Regions from separate parts of the Homo sapiens genome. Here region 1 is linked to region 2. The links come from fine-mapping of genetic effects on gene expression. A gene starts in region 2. The other region holds a variant in brackets. All regions are shown on one strand. Distances are between the middles of the regions. Region 1 has its middle 54 kb from the start of LACC1. Region 2 holds the start of LACC1 (laccase domain containing 1).

The links. PIP is the estimated chance that this variant, and not a neighbour inherited with it, causes the effect.
Region 1: its variant is the best candidate, but not a certain one, in a credible set for the expression of LACC1 in tibial nerve (GTEx, PIP 0.68).

Annotation. Positions count from the first base shown.
Region 1 is chr13:43,932,349-43,935,264 of GRCh38, reverse strand. No RefSeq gene overlaps it. Among named protein-coding and RNA genes, the nearest start is that of LACC1, 54 kb to the right of the region's middle. RefSeq lists a silencer at 1,602-1,741. The variant C/T (reference allele first, on the strand shown) is at 1,439.
Region 2 is chr13:43,878,319-43,881,234 of GRCh38, reverse strand. It overlaps LACC1 (laccase domain containing 1), which reads right to left and starts at 1,331. Exons shown (of 7, transcript NM_153218.4): 1 at 1,116-1,331; 2 at 1-283. The coding sequence starts at 249. It overlaps CCDC122 (coiled-coil domain containing 122), which reads left to right and starts at 1,495. Exons shown (of 7, transcript NM_144974.5): 1 at 1,495-1,604. RefSeq lists a silencer at 1,444-1,593.

The DNA.
Region 1 (2,916 bases), 54 kb before region 2:
GCCAGGACTGGCGATTTGCCACATTTCAGAAACTACTTTTGTGTATGCCAGATTATACTGAGGTTCCATGTTCATGGGGTTTTTAAAATCTCTTTTAATCCCTTTGATTGATAGATTACTAAAATATTTCAGGGTGGATTTGTTGGGTCTGTTTTCCTGTTGCCTAAATTCAATTTAGTTTAATTTATATATGGAATTATTACTACAGATAAATATAATCTTTAGTAAGAATTCCATAATTCCATATTTAAAGATGCAGGGGGGAACATACAAATTTAAGGCACAGTTTACATTCTAATTGGGTAGATAATTCAAGCACAAAGAGAAACATAATATAGGACAGAGTAAGGTGTTGTGTCCTAACACATAGAAAGTTATTCATTTACTACTATTCTGTCATGTGTTGGCCATCAGGAATGGGATACTTATGAGAAAAAAAGATGAACAACACAAAGAAGGAAAAGGGCTCTATCAAAGATAGATAGATAGTTAGATAGATAGATAGATAGTTCTTACCAAAGATATGACTAACATTGAATTCTGAGAGGGGCCTGTGCTCCTCTAGCCACACCAGAACCCTCTAAATAGTGTTAAATCAATCTGTTTTCAGGGTATAAGGGTGGAAAGCTATTAAATTATTTTTGTAATGGTGAAATTCAAAGAATAGAAGAGACCTCACAGACCACTTGAGCCAACCTTCCAGAAGAGGCTGAATTCCCTCTTTCAACAGAAATCTCCCTGTATCAGTGAGAGCCCTTCCACTAAACAAACCCAAAAGTGATTCATTCACCTCTTATTGACTCAGCAGCTCATTCCCTCTTCAGACAACTCTGTTCAACTTTCTTACACTAAGAGGAAATCTGTTTCCCTAAAATCTACACCAGATGGACATCTAAACCCTTCCAAGAAAGCCCTTGGATGTTTGAAAACAGGTATTGTGACCCACCACCCATCCTGTTGCCTGTCTCATCCCACCACATTTTTCTCTTCTACAACTAAATTCCCTCAATGGATATCCAATTTCCTCAATGGATAGCGCCCTTCACAATTATTTTATTTTGTTAAAATGTAAAAATAATAAGTGACTATTGTAGAAAACACAAAAAATATAAAGAAACAACCCTACAAGTGTGTGATCTAGTTGGAAAGATAAATGTGTGATAAGGATGCTATAAAAGCACAAAGAAAACTGTACGTGGCATAGCCCAGAGGTACGAAAGTGCATGATATTTAGAAAACTGGAGGACCTCATTCTGGGAAATGATCTGTATGAGAGAGGGGTAAAAGATGAAACTAGAGATCTAGATGGGCAGAAACCAAATCACAAAGGACTCTATGTGTTAAGACGTTTTATTTTTCTCCTAAAAGTTGTAGGGATACATGCCATTAATGTGTTTAAGGAAAGGAGAGATAAGATAAAATGTTTGTTTCTGAAAGG[C/T]CATTCTGCTGGCAGAGTGAAGAAAGAATTGAAAGGAGCAAGCTAGGATCAAGAAGAGATCAATTAAGAGGTTATTGCAGAGAAAGAAGTGATGAAAAACAGACTGGCAGCAATGTGGGAGTGGGAGAGAGGCATGGAAAAAATATTTAGGTGATAGAGTCATTATGATTGGTGTTCAATCGAAATTTAGAAGTGAAAGGGTCTGGGAACTGAGTGCATGGCAATTTGAGGAACTGAAATACTCAATGTGGCCAGAACAGAGTTCATTTCAGAAAAGTGGTAAGAAATGAGAGTAGAGGTATGATTGGGCCTGGTATAGGCCCTTGAAAGAGGGGTAAAGGAGTTAGAACTTCATACCCAGGACAATATGAAGGCTTCGAAGAATAGTCATCAGAAGAGTGTCCTAAGTAAGAGTTCCATTTTCAAAAACCATTCAGGTTTCAGTGTGGACAATGAATTTTAGGGAAGGGGGTAAGATAGGAGGTAGAGATAAGAGTATTGCAATAATCCATCCACATGAGACAACATGGTAGCCTGGATAAGAATAGTAGGACTGGAGAGTGGTGGATTAGAAATACTTAGAATGAACTCCAACAGGACTTAGTTATTGATATGATTATAACATTATAACATAATACCTCAAGTCTAGTACACATCTACTATGTGCCTGGCACTGTGCTCAGCAGTTGGTAGGGTGAGGTCAGAGAGTAAGAAGCCATGGATAATTCTTAGGATTTTTCTTTGGTCAATACAGGAGGTAAGGGCAGGTTGAAAAGAAAGACAAGAGGTTCTAGTTGATGCAGGAATATCAATGAACAGTGGAACATACATGTCTAAAGTTCAGGAGAGAGATTGGGCTAGATTTGGGAATTATTACCTTAAAGGTGGCAATTAAATAGATGAGAGAAGATGAGGTTCCTGGGAGAATGTGCAGGGTAAGAAGGGACCGTGGTCTAGATTAAAACACTAAATAAAGAACAGAGGAAGTCGGTGACTTTTTCTGTTGACCCAGAATTGGTACTTAAGCCTGTAGCTGACAACTACTGGTTGTAAGTGCCTAACATTATAAACATAAGTATCAATAATCTGTGCTAAATGTTCCTTCTAGGACTTACTAAGAATTTCAGACTTGCCCCTACAATAGTCATCCCTTGAGTAGATTTACCATGAAGCTAATGAAACTTAACCTTTAGGGTCTCTCACTTGCACAGGCTGTTTCTACTGTCTCAATAATATATTTACAAGTCATATGTTGTTATAAAGTTTGAAAAAGTAAAATGCTTTAAATACAACCATTAAGTCTATTCCAACTTCTCTCCATCACACTTTCCTAGAAACATTAGGTATAACAGGTTTTTGAGTTCTTCTAAGAGGATATTGAGTTGGGGACTCATTTAGTTTGGGTTTAGTGGGGTATTTTATGTAATTCATAGTCACTTCCAATGTATAGTTAAGTTACTGCTAGCTGCACTGGTATA
Region 2 (2,916 bases):
GCTGGGACAGCTAACAATCTCAAATTCTTCCAAGAGAGCTGATAATCCATTGCTTGTTTCTATTTCACAATTATCTTGTTCTCCATCCCTTTCATAGCTGATGTTACTGCAACACATTATACAGAGAAACTTGGCCTTGGCAGCATGGTGGTATTGGACAGCATTCAAAGTCTTCAGTAATGTCTGATGGCAGTTTTTTTGAGAGTTCAATTTCAAACCAAAAAGATCAATCAAAACAGCTTCTGCCATCCTTGAAAGAATACTTTTATGCCAAATAAATCACCTGCAAATAAAAATTAGTGTAAGAATATAAGATTATATAAATCTTATAGTTACAACAGAAATTTGTGGTAGATTAAAAACGAAGTAATTACACTGATTTTAAAATGTAACTAAAATAGTAAATCTAGGCCCCTCCCAGAAAAGCCAGTCTACTCTGTCACAACAGAACCATGACAGTGAAAGCAAAGCCATCTTTTAATTCGTTTTGTGAAAATGCTGGTACATCTTTCCAGCAGCACGACAGTTCCTCTGTTTTGTTTACACAGAACTTTTGAGTAAGGAATTACTTGTGGAGTTTAGACAAAGTCCTGTTTTTAAATTGCAGAGTGTCAACCTGTGTGATATATCATTAGTCCTGACATGATTGTCATATTAGGTCTCATCCTTTCATATGCGGGGGCTTAAGTTTACGAAGCTAAATGGAGCTGCACGCGAAATTCGCGTTTTAAGATGATAAAAGCTGAGATGGCTAATAGAGTTCCCTTCAGGATTTGCGCAGTACTCCACACTTAGCAATGACCACAAAAGCTATAGTGATTTGGATGAGACAGGCTTCCTCTCAACTTTCTTAATTCATTCTCCCCGTGCAGCTTTGCTCACCTCCAGCCCAGCCCTCCCACCCCAACCTGCGGGGCTCCGGTGACCCCCTTTGGTGACGCCCTTTGCCCCAAGAAGGTTTTCTCCTGCCGCTTCCCCTAACCTTTGCTCCCCATCTCTCGGGGCTCCCTCTGAGGTTCATTTAGCCAGTTTTGAGTGGGTGACCGTCCCCCCTTCCCTGTTCATTGTGAATTTCCGCCCAACGTGTGTCGCCGCCAGGTCCCTGTTCCTCCTACCCGCCTCGGCTCACGGGGCGCAGGCTGTGGCTCTGCACCTGCCCGGGCACCTCCACCGGCGGCTCACAGCCCATTCGGGACTTCCTGTCGGACAACGCACACCAGAGGCGATTCGGTCCTCGCCTTCCCGCTCTTCACCTTCGGTTGCACACCGGTCTACGGCGACCTCTGTGACAATTTGCCGCCCCGTCCCTCGTCCTGAGCCTCAACGAAATTGGGCAGCCGCGAGCGGGTCAGCTGGAGTCGTAAGCTCGGCCCAGCGCGACGACACCCGCCCCGCCTCACCTCGCCCACCTCGCCCACCTCGCCCCGCCTCGCCTCGCCCCGCCTCGCCCCGCCTCACCTCGCCCCCCTCGCCCACCTCGCCCCGCCTCACCTCACCTACCTCGCCGCGGCCGCACAGATTCCCCGCCTGATACCGTCCCAGGATCCCAGGGGAAACCTGACGGCCAGGTTCCCTCGTGCCAGCTGCCGGGAGGCGGGAGGGAGGTAGGCCAGGGCCGCCTGGCGTGCTTGGTGCGAACGCGGCGGGCCCAGCGCGAGAGCTGGGGAATCCCGGGATGAGCCAAGCGCCGCGAGCCCGCTGCTGCCTCAGCAGTTCCGGGTCTGGGCGGTCCGCGGAGTCGGCATCCCGCAGCCCCGGCGGCGTTAGAGGAACAGGAACCAGAGCCGCGCGAGGGCTCTCGCCCGGGAGCCAGGCGGGTTAGCGGGCAGGAGTGGGCAGGCCGAGTCCGGAAAGGGTCGCGAGGAGGCAGCTAGGGGCCCCTTGAGGAGGGATAGGGCGGCGGAACGACGGGCCCTGGGAGCGGGCGCAGGGCGGCAGGAGCTGCAGGTCTCCAGAGGGCACGGGGCGGGGAACTAGGGGCCCGGTTAGAAAGCCGGGCGGCGGGAACGGCGGGCACCGTGAGGGGGCGGCGGGAATGGTGGGTCGCGTGAGGCCGGGCTGCTGGAGCGACCTCGGGACTAAACCGCAGTCTCCCTTCTGCTAATGGAAGCCGTTTCCCAAGCGAGCTGAAGTCCGCGTTTCCGGTCTCTGAGGGACGCCTCGCTGACCCAGCAGTGTGGTCAGGACGCTGGGTTTCCTCACCGCAGCCCAGGGCCAGTCCCTTGTCATGCTAGCTCTTGGCAGCTTTTCCCATGCAGGGCTCAAGTCAGGGGCCCCCTCGAGATGTTTTAGTGTTTTTTTGTTGTTCATTTGTTTCCAGAAACAAGCTGTTGTCTCTCCTCCAATGTCTTTGTGCTGATTCTTGCTGACCAACACTCTTCCGAGCGCCTTCACTTGTGTTGACAACACGGATGTCCTCTATGGCCTTTTAAAATATGTGCCACTAGCAGGACTTAAGTAAAAGGCGCTCATCCCTAAAATCATGATAAAGGTGCAGTTTAGCATCCCTGATCTGTCCTCCAAGAATATAACGTTCATTTATTTGAAAATAGCAGTTAGGACATGGAAGGCCAGTGTATGGTAAAGGGAAAAAATATCCGACCTTCCAAGAGTAAGAGAAATGGTGCTTCCTGGGGAACTGGTTATGATGGAAGGAGAGGTCCCTTTTATCTTCATTGTTGCTCATTTGGTAGGCGCTAAAGAACCTTTGTCTCATAATCTCAGATAGCTGGGAATTTGGAAGAGCCCTCTGGGGTAGGCATGTTCTTGTGCTTGACTAGAGACTGGGAGCACTAACCCAGAATGGAAACCCACCCTTCAATAACCCTAGCACCAGTTATGTCAAAATTCATGTTTTCTTTGGTCATTTGTTAAAGAGCCCCGAGCGGTAGATGGTACACCCAATCAGAAGGTGCA